Linked DNA regions of Homo sapiens. The protein of the gene in region 1 interacts with the protein of each later gene in a pairwise test. Each region holds a gene or a part of one and is shown on either strand. Other genes may lie near its edges.

What was found. The genes of interacting proteins can lie anywhere in the genome.
Region 2: the proteins of NFIL3 (region 1) and MAFF come close enough for resonance energy transfer, tested with the Homo sapiens proteins (one large-scale study listed by BioGRID and IntAct).
Region 3: the proteins of NFIL3 (region 1) and HLF come close enough for resonance energy transfer, tested with the Homo sapiens proteins (one large-scale study listed by IntAct).

Annotation. Positions count from the first base shown.
Region 1 is NC_000009.12:91,412,887-91,418,626, forward strand, and holds part of NFIL3 (nuclear factor interleukin-3-regulated protein), read right to left. Parts: exon of another isoform or gene 2,680-5,740; intron 1-2,679.
Region 2 is NC_000022.11:38,214,137-38,217,171, reverse strand, and holds the end of MAFF (transcription factor MafF), read right to left. Parts: intron 2,753-3,035; coding exon 2,294-2,752; 3' UTR 665-2,293; downstream 1-664. UniProt on the Homo sapiens protein: Since they lack a putative transactivation domain, the small Mafs behave as transcriptional repressors when they dimerize among themselves.
Region 3 is NC_000017.11:55,320,096-55,324,123, reverse strand, and holds part of HLF (hepatic leukemia factor), read right to left. Parts: intron 3,464-4,028; coding exon of another isoform or gene 3,461-3,463; coding exon 3,245-3,460; 3' UTR 1-3,244.

The DNA of each region.
Region 1 (5,740 bases):
CATGATGCCACTATCTCCTTCTTACGCCTAGTTTCATAATGACTAATAAAATGAAGTTTACTTTTATCAATTGGAAAAGCCTGCCAGCTTCTTTTGTCTTTTCCAGGGAATGAAAGGAATTATGTAATAATTTCAGGATCATAAAGAATAATGTTTCATGCCAGGTTTTTGCCCATTAAACTGAGCCAACATAGTTAAGGGAACAGCTAGTCGTAACTCAGAGAAATTTGTGATTATTAATATCAAGTTTCTGTTTGTTTTTTGGTAATGAAACTTTAATAGGAAATGAAGGCAAGGAGTGTGTCACAGTCAGCAGTGATGTTGCAGAGAAGGAATCTTCCTATTTATCATTTAAACAATATTATTTCCTTTTTTTTTTTTGATAAGAGTCTCGCTCTGCTGCCCAGGCTAGAGTGCAGTGGTGCAATCTTGGTGCACTGCAGCCTCTGCTTCCCAGGCTCAAGCGACTCTCCTGCCTCAGCCTCCTGAGTAGCTGGGGTTACAGTTACGCGCCACCACGCCCAGCTAATTTTTTTGTATTTTTAGTAGAGACGGGATTTTACCATGTTGGTCAGGCTGGTCTTGAACTCCTGATCTCAGGTGATTTGCCTGCCTCGGACTCCCAAAGTGCTGGGATTACAGGCATGAGCCACCACGCCCGGCCAACAATACTATTTCCTCTAATTTGCATTTAGGTTTTGTCCTCTAATATGAAAACCCAGTTTCCTTTACATATTGAATGGATTCTTTCCTCTGTTGAAGTCTGCACTCTGCCATTCAGCAAAGTCCTCCTGCTAAAGTAAAATGAGTGGAGAAGTAAAGAGGAAGATATCCCAGTTAAAGAAGACAATTGCACTGACCTTTCCCAAGGCACCTTTCAAATCTCCACTATACTCTTGGCCACTACTTTTTTCCACTTTTAGTTTTTAAACATCATATGATCCCTTGCAGACTATTATTCTGGTTATTTTCTCCACCTGAGAATCTTTCTCTTCCATGTGTTATCTTATTTGTTCCTTCTTAAAAAAAAAAATCAGATTCCTTTATTTTGCCTCACTTACTAGATTTACAGTAATGCTTTTGAAATGCCCCGCCATTCTGTCTGCCTTAGTTACTCTTCCTAAACTTCTAGGACCTTTTCAAGGTTGGGGCCCAATTGGGAAGGAGCCTTCACAATAGGTCCTATTTCTATTTAACTGAAATAGCCCCATTTGTCTTAAAATTTCCTTAACTCATGTCTTCTAGGTGTCTAAGTACTATATGACTACTTTATCATCTCTACAACTTTGTTGGTACATTAACCTACAGAAAACTTCATTTGCTTTTTTGTTTTTGAGACAGAGTTTCACTCTTGTTGCCCAGGCTGGAGTGCAATGGTACGATCTTGGCTCACCGCAACCTCTGCCTACAGGGTCCAAGCAATTCTCCTGCCTCAGCCTCCCAAGTAGCTGGGATTACAGGCATGTGCCACTAAGCCCAGCTACTTTTGTATTTTTAGTAGAGATGGGGTTTCTCCATGTTAGTAGAGATGGGGTTTAGTAGAGATGGGGAAACTCCATGGGGTTTCTCCATGGGGAGTTCAGGCTGGTCTTGAACTCCCGACCTCAGGTGATCTGCCTACCTTGGCCTCCCAAAGTGCTGGGATTACAGGCGTGAGCCACCTCGCCAGGCCACCTCATTTGTTTTTAATCATCTTCTTCCTATTTGAATTTCATGGCATGTCACTATAAATCTGTGATTCTGCTCTCATCTGTATGTATTACATTCATGGTCTCTACAACTCAATGGCAAATCACCACACTATCTTAGGATATTTTCTGTAATATTATCTATCAAATAATCTTGCAGTGTTGAAAAGAGTTTATCAGCATTATGGGATGATACGGAGACAGGCACAATCATATACACTGTGTGTGTTTCCACGTGTTTGTCTTTTGTGCCCAACTACACTGCGAATTACTTCAGGGCGGAAATTAAAATATACTTGTCTTCTAGCAAAAACCTGAAGATATTAGGTGCTCAACATTTCATTGACAGTCACCCATATACCTTATATAAGAGAGTTTTGTAAACAGAAAACTTTTTTGATGCTTTCTTTTTAATGTTATGTGAATTGTAAAGAAGATATTTTACTTATTAACAGAGAGATTCTCTTATTCATTAATTTGTTTATTCAACACATATGGAGCACCTACTGTGTACTGGGCACAAGGGGAGACTAGGGGCACATAAAGAGGGAGAGAAAAACCAAACTCCCGAGACCAGGCGCTCAGTCGTGGGTGGGTGGGAGACAAACAGGTGAGCAGAGGGGAACCAGGTGTGAGTGCAGAGTTGCACAAACATGGGCCTGGGGTGCAGGCTTTCTTCTTGTCATGGAGATAATAACAAAAACAATCATAATTGGTGCCATTTATTGAACACTTACCACAGAATGGGCACTGGGAGCCTGACCTGCTTTCTTTCATTCACTTTTGGTGACAATTTTCAGATAAGAAAACTAAGGCTCAGAGAAGTCAAGTGACTTGCCCAGTGTCACATAGCTAAATGGCAGAGCGTACATTCAGGCCCAGTTCCTTTACTCTCTCCTACACTTTCACAGGTGGTTCTGCATCTTTGCAATGCAGTCTCATTTACACACAGTTCTCTTTTGTGTCACTTTCATTTCTGAGTAATACATACCCTTTTACTAAGTTACTTTGGGCGCAGTAAGGCACTATGCTAACTTAACTACTTCTTCTTTTTTTTTTTTTTTCTTTTTGAGAAGGAGTTTTGCTCTTGTTGCCCAGGCTGGAGTGCAATGGCGCGATCTTGGCTCACCACAACTTCCACCTCCTGGGTTCAAGCGATTCTCCTGCCTCAGCCTCCCAAGTAGCTGGGATTACAGGCATGCGCCACCATGCCCAACTAATTTTGTATTTTTAGTAGAGACGGGGTTTCTCCATGTTGGTCAGGCTGGTCTTGAACTCCCGATCTCAGGTGATCCGCCTGCCACAGCCTCCCAAAGTGCTGGGATTACAGGCGTGAGCCGTCACGCCTGGCTCCTTAACTTCTCTTAGATGCTGTCTTAACTTCTTTAGCCAGCAAAGATACTATCTAGAACTTTTCTCCATCCTCCTTAGATGTTTCAGATCTGGCACTATTTATGAATTGAGAAAACATTTTATTAATTTTCATATCTTTACTAAAATTTTAACCTCCTGGCTATTCTAATTATGTTAAATAGAGAAAAAGAAATATGATAGCTGTGGACATTGTCACCTATGATCTTCTTCTTTTTTTTTTTTTTTTAACAAATCCAAGAGTGTAATCTGTTTTCAACATGAGGCGGGGGACAGTGTCTCTCTGACCCTCTCATTTTGCAGATTAATCAGCTAGAAGACAGGCTGACCTTCCCAAGACCACACAGCAGTTGGGCACAGATGGGCTCTGAGCTCTCCTTATGCCCCTCAACAATGAACTTAAAGCAAATGCAAAAGTAGTTTACGATGCCTTCAAAAAGCCTCAGGATTTATGCTAACCTAACAAATTTATTTCAAGCCTCAATATTTTCCCTTATGATTAATTTAACAATTACTTCATCTATGCATCATCTTTTCAAATCAACATCTAATGTTGTGGTATATTAGTCATTGCTTAAGTTTCTTTTTTGGTGAATAATTGACACTACATGCCAATTCTATGATGTTAGTGTATTCAGCACGATTAACTTCATTACACACATTAGATGATATGACTCTCCTTGAAAACACAAATAAAAAAGAGAAATTTAAGAGCAGGTATTATTACCTACCAGTTGACATATTTTTCCATACATACTCCGAAGGTGCCATCACTAATTAATGCTTTTGTATAGTCCATCACACTACTTCTCTAAGCAAGAATTATATAGCAAGAATTATATTTCATAAGCCCAGATTTTTAAAGTTTAAGTCAGATTACCCTATTGTTTTTAATTAAGTACAAGATTTGATTTAGAAAATTCTATAAAAGAATATAACCTCATAACAATAATTCTAGACCAAATTTATCCTTGAGGAGTTATCTCATTAGTTATGTTTATGATAGACCTTTATCTTCCCTGGTCTCTCCCAGAACTAATGTTTAACAATCCAAGCTCCACAAAAGAAAAGAATAAACATGCTTTGTTTCAATCATCTGAAATCTTACTAATAGTCTAAACATTAAAATCTACTCTGAGAACATTTTGTTATTAATTATCTATAAAGGGTAAGTTTTATTGCAAATTGCAATATATATTTTGTTTTTAAAATTCTGTCAATAGAAGATGAAATACTATTTGATATGCCCAATGATTTGGAAACATTATAGAATTATCTTATTTTCCCTCTACTCTCTGAATGTATTGTTTTCTCCCTGTTATATAATACAGATAACAGTAAAGGAAAAAAAAATGTCTTCAAGGTAAACCTAAGTTATGTTAAACTGTAAGCCACCTCTCCAGTAAGACAGCAGATGCTTATTTTTTAGATAAATGTCATTTTCATGAAAAAATCAAATCAATTAATCAATTCACATCTCTTTATACTTTTAAAGTATGAATACTAGCAATATGTTAACCCTACATTTTCTTCCTGTGGGTAAAATTCACAGTATCTGCGTCAATGAAATGCTTTACTTCTTTTCATGGATGAGAAAACAATCTAGTATTTAAAAGCAGAGATGAAATAAGAAAAGAATTCACTATACATGTACAACCCAGAGGAAATGGGGAGTGAAAAAACTCAGTCAGAAAACACCGAAGTTGCAAGAGAATTTTCTAATCCCGTTGAAAAAGAGAAGGATTTTTAAGCTGAGAAAACTATGTTAAACCTCTCTAAGGGCCATTCTGTCCCCAAGAAGCAGCTTACCCCAAAGTTAGAGAGAAATGTGCACTTGATCAAGACAGGCAAGACGCACACACACACATACACACACACTCTCGCACACTGCCAGAATCTATTCTATCATAGCAACAAATTGACCTACTTTTTCTATTTGGGTGCCTCTGTAAATAAATGTGTCAAAGCCTGATCCAGTTTATGATAAATGAAAATATTTCAAGTTCGACAAAGGACTAGCTGAAAATTAAATTTAAATTTAATAAATACGATGACAACATTGCATTTTATTACATCACTGATGTAATTTAAGTAATTGAAATATGAAATAGTATAACTTAACATTCTTCTTTAAGAGGTCGTCAGTGTTTGAAACTTAATACACAATTAAATTATTCTGAAGCCTGCACAGAGTAAGCACATACACGCTAGCACGACCAATTAACTGCACAGCTTGAGAAATAAGAACAGCTCTCACTAAAGATGGGTAGTAACATGGGGGAAAAACAGAACAGTAATAATTTTTTAAAAATCTATAGAAACTTAAATGTGGGGACTATTAATATCTTGAAACTTCTGAAAAGATAACTGATCAGTGTAGCAACTAATCTGAAATCTTAAAAGGACACCAACAATCACAAAGTAACCCAGTTGTAGAAAATTCCCCAATGAATAAGTAATACATGCAACATGGTGTAATGATGGCAAAAATGGTGGGCTAAGGGGACAGTCAGGCTGAGAAAATTCTTGAAAGTTTCTAATGATAATGTAGAATCATCCCAACTTGCTTCACTTGGCTTTTTAATTTCTTTTTCCACTTTTCCAGTCAGTGGATGATTATAAATGTCATTTTCTACCTTATGAATAGAGTGGATTTTCAAATGCTTATTTGTAGTGTTTAT
Region 2 (3,035 bases), on another chromosome or scaffold:
TATTTTTAGTAGAGACGGGGTTTCACCATGTTGGTCAGGCTGGTCTTGAACTCCTGACCTCAAATGATCCACCCGCCTCAGCCTCCCAAAGTGCTGGGATTACAGGTGTGAGCCACTGCGCCCGGCCTGTTTTCTTACTTTTAAATTTCTTGTAGAGATGGGGGTCTTGCTATGTTGCCCAGCCTGGTCTCAAACTCCTGGCCTCAAGTGATCCTCCCACCTCAGCCTCTTCAGTAGCTGGAACAATAGGCATGTGTACCACCACATGTGGCTAATTATTTTTTATTTTTTGTAGAGATGGGGTGTCACTATGTTGCCCGGGTTGCTCTTGGACTCCTAGTCTCAGATGATCCTCTTGCTTCAGCCTCCCAAAGTGCTGGGATTACAGGTGTGAGCCACCATGCTCCGCCAGAATCCAGTCCTAAATTTCATTGTGCCCATGGCTTTGTCTTCCCAGGAGCTCCTGTGCTCTAAGCAACCAAGAGGAAGCATCGAAGTTTCAGCATCACTGGTCTCTGTCGCCATCTCCCCTCCACCTCATACCCTGTGCAATAGCTGGTGATGTGCACTAGCCCTCCCCGCCACCAGAAGCCCTAAGGGGTTGAAAGCAGAACCCCATTTTAGACACCCCTCGCCAAAAAACATAGTCCAGGATACACATTTATTCTCTGTGGAAAAAGAAAGAATTTGACTTTATTTAGAAAGTCTACAAAATACAGAAGACGATAACTCGCTTGCTGTAAGTCAGGAAATAAATAAATTCTAGGAGCCGGGCAATATTTTTTAACTTTTTTTTTGAGACAGGATTTTGCTATGTTGCCCAGGCTGGAGTGCAGTGGTGCGATCTCAGCTCACTACAACCTCTGCCTTCTGGGCTTAAGTGATCCTCCTGCCTCAGCCTCCCAAGTAGCTGGGACTACAGGCATGAGCCACCATGCATGGCTAATTTTTGTATTTTTTGTAGAGATGGGGTTTCACCATGTTGTCCAGGCTGGTCTCAAACTCCTGGACTCAAGCGATCCCCCTCCTTGGACTCCCAAAGTGCTGGGATTACAGATGTGAGCCACCGCGCCCGGCTTAAACATTTTTTGTTGTTGCTCTCCGGCTTTCCCTAAATATAAGATAAAATGTGATTTATTTGCAGATATAAAATATAAAGCCCAGCTCAGGGCCATACGCCACTTTTCCCAGGGAGCAGGAGCTCGGGCTCTGGCTGGGGAGAATAACTTAGATCCGTGCAATAAATAAACAGTGGGGAGGGGCAGTGTGGACAGTGTTGGGGGAGGGACTGAGACTGGGCTTCCCAGGAGAATGACAATCAAAGGCAGGGGTCAGCCCCCACCCCACAGTGGACACTGACAGGGGTTGAGGTGGGACCCTTCTTCTTAGGACCCCACTCCAGACTGTAGTAGGACTGCAGGGTCTGTCTCCTTGTCTCCCTATTTGCCACAGCAGTCCATGGCCCCCTTTCTCTGACTGGCCAGCCCCCGGACACCCTGGCTGCAGGGACAGCCTAGGGCTGAGCCAGGCCAGCTCCTTCCCACTCTTCCATCCGTGTCACCTTCTCTCTCCCTCTGCTTCTCTCCCCCTCCCTTGCAGAGAGCGGTCTCCCAAGCCAGGGAGGCCCTCCCACCACATTTCTGAGTCCCTGTCCACTGTCCCCCTGAAAACCATGGCTGGACTCAGGGCAGCAGTGAGGACACCCAGGTTTTGGTCCCAACACAACCACTAAGTGAAATGTGACCTCAGGCCTGTTTCCCCATCCGTGAACTGGGTTTCACTAGTCTTCCCACCCACTCTTTTAGTTTCGGAAGGCCAGGCACCCCCAGGCCCAACCAGAGGTGGGGGCATCTCTTCAGTGCAATTTCTCAGCAGGACGGTCCCGTAAGTCACAGACAGCCAAACCTAGCTTTGAATCCTGGGAGGGTTTGGAGGGCATATTGGCACAATAAGAGCAGTTTCCAAGATGAGGGGTGCCCTCTTCTCCCCCAACAGCTGTTCTCTAAGCCGGCTCTGTATCTCTCAATCTAAAAAGGCTAAACTTTCAGCCAAGGGCGATCCCAGATCCAGACCTCTGCCCCATCCCCAACCTACCCAAGTTCCCCTTCCCAGGGTCATTCGGTCCCAGTTTGGGGGGCTGCAAGAGGAAGACAGGGCCCACGAAGGGAATGTGTGTGCACCAAGGGGCCAGTGCTGCAGAGAAATGGGACCTGGGCACAGAGGCGGCGCTCAGGCACTTTGGGGAGGGAGCTGAGGCCGGAGGGGCGTGGCTGAGGCATGGCGGGGGCGGGCACTAGGAGCAGGAGGCCGGGCCGTGGGCGGGGTCCGGGCCGTGGGCGGGGCCAGACCCCGAGCCCGGGGTGGACTTGACGATGGTGATGACGCTGGCCGGCGCCACGAGCGTGGCGGGCCCGCGGGCGGCGGCCACGGAGCGCGCGAAGCCCTGCAGCGCCTCGCACTTGCCGCGCAGCGCGTCGAGCTCCAGGCGCATGGCGGCGTTCTCGCGCGCCAGCTTGTCCACCTCGCGCTCCAGCTCCGACTTCTGCTTCTGCAGCTCCTCCTTCTGGCACACGCGCTTCACGCGGCAGCTGGCGGCGTAGCCACGGTTTTTGAGTGTGCGGCGCCGCTGCTTGAGCCGTGTCACCTCCTCGGCGGAGAGCCCGCGCAGATGCCGGTTCAGCTCGCGCACCGACAGCCCCATCAGCGCCTCGTCCGACAGGTGCGGCGTGTTCTCGCTCAGCTCTCGCTTGATCTGCGGGCATGAGGAAACTGAGGTCCAGGGGACTGGGGACGGGCCCCCCCGCTCCACCCGCGGTGTTCCTCTTTCACCGCCTTAGCCGCCGAGGTGGTGGGTGGACTTGATCCAAAACCCCGAAGGGGAGCAGGAATCCGGGAAGGGGAAACCGGGCCAGACTAGGATCGGGACACAAAAGGAGGCCACCCCGGGGCTCAGCCTGAATTCTAACCTAGCGCCAAGCCCTGGACTCAGCCAGAGAAACCCAGGTCGGAAAGCACCTTTGAATGCCCCAGGGGAC
Region 3 (4,028 bases), on another chromosome or scaffold:
CTTGCCTAATGTGGTATTTGAATGGTTCAAAGTGGCCACTTCCTGAAGAGAAAGAAGTAATGATCTACAGCCCTCCCCTCAACAAACTACCTCCTTAAGGCAGCACCAGCAGAAAGATAGGCTGGTCAATTTTTGCCTTTCTTTGCCAAGTCTAGTTAAAAGAAACAACAATGTGACCTCATCAGGAGGTCCTAAGCTGTTCCTTCCAAATCATGTCTAGATGATGTCAGTATGATATGATTTGGATTCATTGTTAATGGCCAAATAATTAATCTCTGAAAGATGCTTAGGATGAAAAGGTGAAAAATGACAAAGGGACTCTCATAATAGCTGCAGCGTGCAGACATGCGTCTGACTCCGGTTGACCCAAATCACTCAGAGTCAAGCCATGGCCTCCCGCTCCATGAAGCAGATCTGCCTTGTTTGCTAGTTAACTGCCCTGGATGGAGAGGCAGCCAGTCCAGAGGGAGTGTTCGTGTGTGTGTATCGTGACAATGACCTACATATAAGGCACCTGTACAGACTCCAAAGTGTTTAAATTTGTAAGACGAGGTAGGTTTCTGAAACCTCTCCTGGCACACAAGAGAATACATTTTATTAGAATCTTTTTATTTTTTTCTGCAGAAAACATTTGAGATGCTCATTTGATATAAACATCTAATTCCAAGAGAGACCAGTGCTCAAATATAGTTTTTTCAGCTACCATTTGATACGGCCATAAATTTGGATGGTCCATGTTACAATCCTTCCACAATTCTCCACTTAAAGACATCATTTTTCTATGTTTTTAATGACTATTGCCATCTAACAATTCTACAATTCGCCTCTTTGCCTGTAAAAAGGCCAACTCTACGTCCACCTGTGTCTCATATTGCTATCTTTTATTTATCTCTGCTTAAGATTGCAAAAGTTTTTGATTTTATTATTCACCTGAACAATGTATTGCAATTCCAATACACCCCCATCTCTTGCTGTTATCTACAGCTTGTGACAAAATGAACACCTTGTAGAAATATCCTACTGGTTGGGTTTCCCAAGTCTATGACACTATGAGAGAAGCATTGCTGATGGATTGACGAGGAGACCACCAGATCATTAAAGGATTAGATACTCTGAAGGCAGGAAACTAGAAAATCCCATTGATGAAAGGATATTTTAATCTAGCGTAAAATGTTTCTTTGTCGTAACAGCAGAATTTCTTGACATTTTACAACTTAATGAAACAAAAGAACAATCATCTTTAAAGTCAAACATCTATCAAATTATAAACCAAACACATAGCACCGATATCAACCTCATAAAACGTGCGGGCCCGCAGGGTAGAAAAGAACTGTCTGGGGCACTGGCAGCAACGTGCCATTCCAGGAACTCAGAATTTCGAAGTGAACATTTTTGTGGCAGATGCTTTTCCTAAAAAACACTGTATCATCCAATAAATATTTGACTAAAATCCATTTTGTGCTTTTGGGTGACGTTAACTGACTTCTTTCTGAGGCCTAATAAGAAACAAGAAAGCTCCTTGTGTATTTTAGAGCAGGATTCGTCATCACAAGCCTCGATACTGTCATAAAATTTTAATTTAAAGCAGAAAACATGCTGATGTGTCAGTGATAGGGCTTAAAATATTAAAGACTTCAAAAACCCCCAAGCACTTCTTCTCTGTACAACATTGGTGAATATATATCTTTGCTATATAATTTTAAAACATGGAATAGTTTTCCTCTCCTCTTTTCTATATATAATATATGTCTTCCAAAATACATTGTCAGTATTTATATCTGAAAAATACTGTACAAAAAAGAACTTCCTATAATTACTCTGTATAAACATTAAACGATTTAATAATCTCTCCTTTTGGTCTATAGTAAACATTTAAATTGATTGGATTAACCACAGTTTGTGACAACACCATCCCCTTCTGAGATACACCAGTGTCTTTTACATTCATTTTTCAGAAGTCCACTTTATAAGAGCACATACGTTCAAAAGCAAACAGAGAATAAGAAACATAAGCTTCAGAATCATTAATTTATGAGGCATTCAAAAATGACACCACTAGGAAAAAGGGCCTTAGAAAACATCAACTTATTAACTTAATCAACTGATTTTCTTTTTAAAAACAACAAAGTATAATTCACAAAAATATATATATTACCAAAAAGTGGGAAAACTGAATCTTAAGTAACTGTTTTGAATGTCAAGAGGGATATGGAAAAAGTTAACTAGAAAAGTGGGGGCGAGGCAGGGTGTGAGGGAAGGGGAACAACAAAACCGAACACATCAATGTCAAAGGCTAATCCAAGACGCAGTTTTTGGCTCATGTACTGATAAATTAACCCCTCATCCTTAGACCTCCCATTTCCCTCTGCTTCCTTGTCCTAGGGAATAGTCTGGCCATGCTCAAATGCATTACTTTACTTTTTGTTTTTTAAAAGACAGTGAAATTCTTAGGTAGGGAAAATATCCTACGTCCACTAGTAATACTCAGGCAGCATGCTCTAGCGTACAATAGGATTATTGCTTTAGGTACAGACAGTGCAAAAACACACTCTGTGTTCTATTAATAGTACTCTTACTTATCTGGGGTTGGTAGAATTAAAAGGAAACTTAGTAGATAGCAGTAAGTAAATATGGGATCTAATAAATCTAAACAGCACTTTAATTTGAAGACGATTATCACCAAAACTGAAAGTAAGAGGAAAGCAACTTATAAAGGACTAGAGCTGCGGAGTAGTGCTAAGTTATTGTGTGCACCTCATTAGCATGGTAACTTACGGACTAAACAGAAACAAGAGCTTGTACTCTTAAAAACTGAGATCCACTATTTTACCAGGGCCCTTTTTAGTGAATCCAAGCAGAGAGTCCTGGAAGAGTAGGTAAGCTCGAACATGAAGCAAAGCTGAGGAGGCAGGAGTGAAGGAGGGAGGGGATGGGAGACCCGCGAGAGGGCTCCTCAGTCTAGTAAAGACATGGCACCTTTCTTTGTTGGAACTAAAAGACGATGAGAGGGCTACCTTAAAATGGCAAGAGCAAAGGAACACGCACACGCACATACCGCTGACCACACACATGAGCACAAGCACATATACACGCACACACACACAGATGCACACCAAAATGGGAGTCAGTTGTGTTTATGCCTCTGGTAAAGTGCTGATGTCAGAAAGGTTGGTTTGCGTGTGGTGCTATCAGACAGGAAACAAACTGTCCATCTATTCCAAAGCCAGCCTGCAAAAATGCCATCCTACAGGGGCCCGTGCCTGGCCTCATACTTGGCAAGTATGTTCTTGCATTTGCCCAGCTCCTTCCTCAAGTCAGCCACCTCCTGGCGGAGGGCCGAGTTCTCCTTCTCCAGGAACGAGGCCCGGATGGCGATCTGGTTCTCTTTCAGCCTCCGGGCGTCGCGGGAGCGCTTGGCTGCCATGTTGTTCTTTCTGCGCCTTGCCCAGTACTTGTCATCCTGCTCATTAGTTACAGAAGGGAAAAAGAAACAAGATATTAGATTTCAGCAAAGCCCAGTGCCAGCCAGGGCACGGGCAGGCTCCAGGATTGTGCAGAGGTGCCAGCCCGGGTTTCTTAGCTTGTGTCTCCTTCCTTTACAGTTTCTGCATGTCTGAGAGTGTGGCCCATGAGCCACACTTCCTTCTTGGAGCAAGGACCCACCGATCTGTCCCAACAGGCTCCTACTCTTTGCCCAGCAGAGGCGTGCTCAGTGAAGCAGAGATCAGAGGCTGGATGAAAGCAGGTGGCTCACCTCACCCTTAAATTACATTTCAACTTTCTTTACTCTCCCTGCTCAACATTTTAAGAACCCTTTTCCTTCAAGGGCACTCATATGCTTTTTTGGGTATGAGTTGGTACAAAAATTTTAGAAGGCAATTTGGCAATATCTATCAACTATTTAAATGGATATACTATTCATCTAGCACTCCACTTCCAGGATTTTGTCCTGTAGCAATCTCCATACATGTGCATGTACACACAAGCATAAACTGTTCACTGCAGCATTATGTGCAGTAGAAAAAATG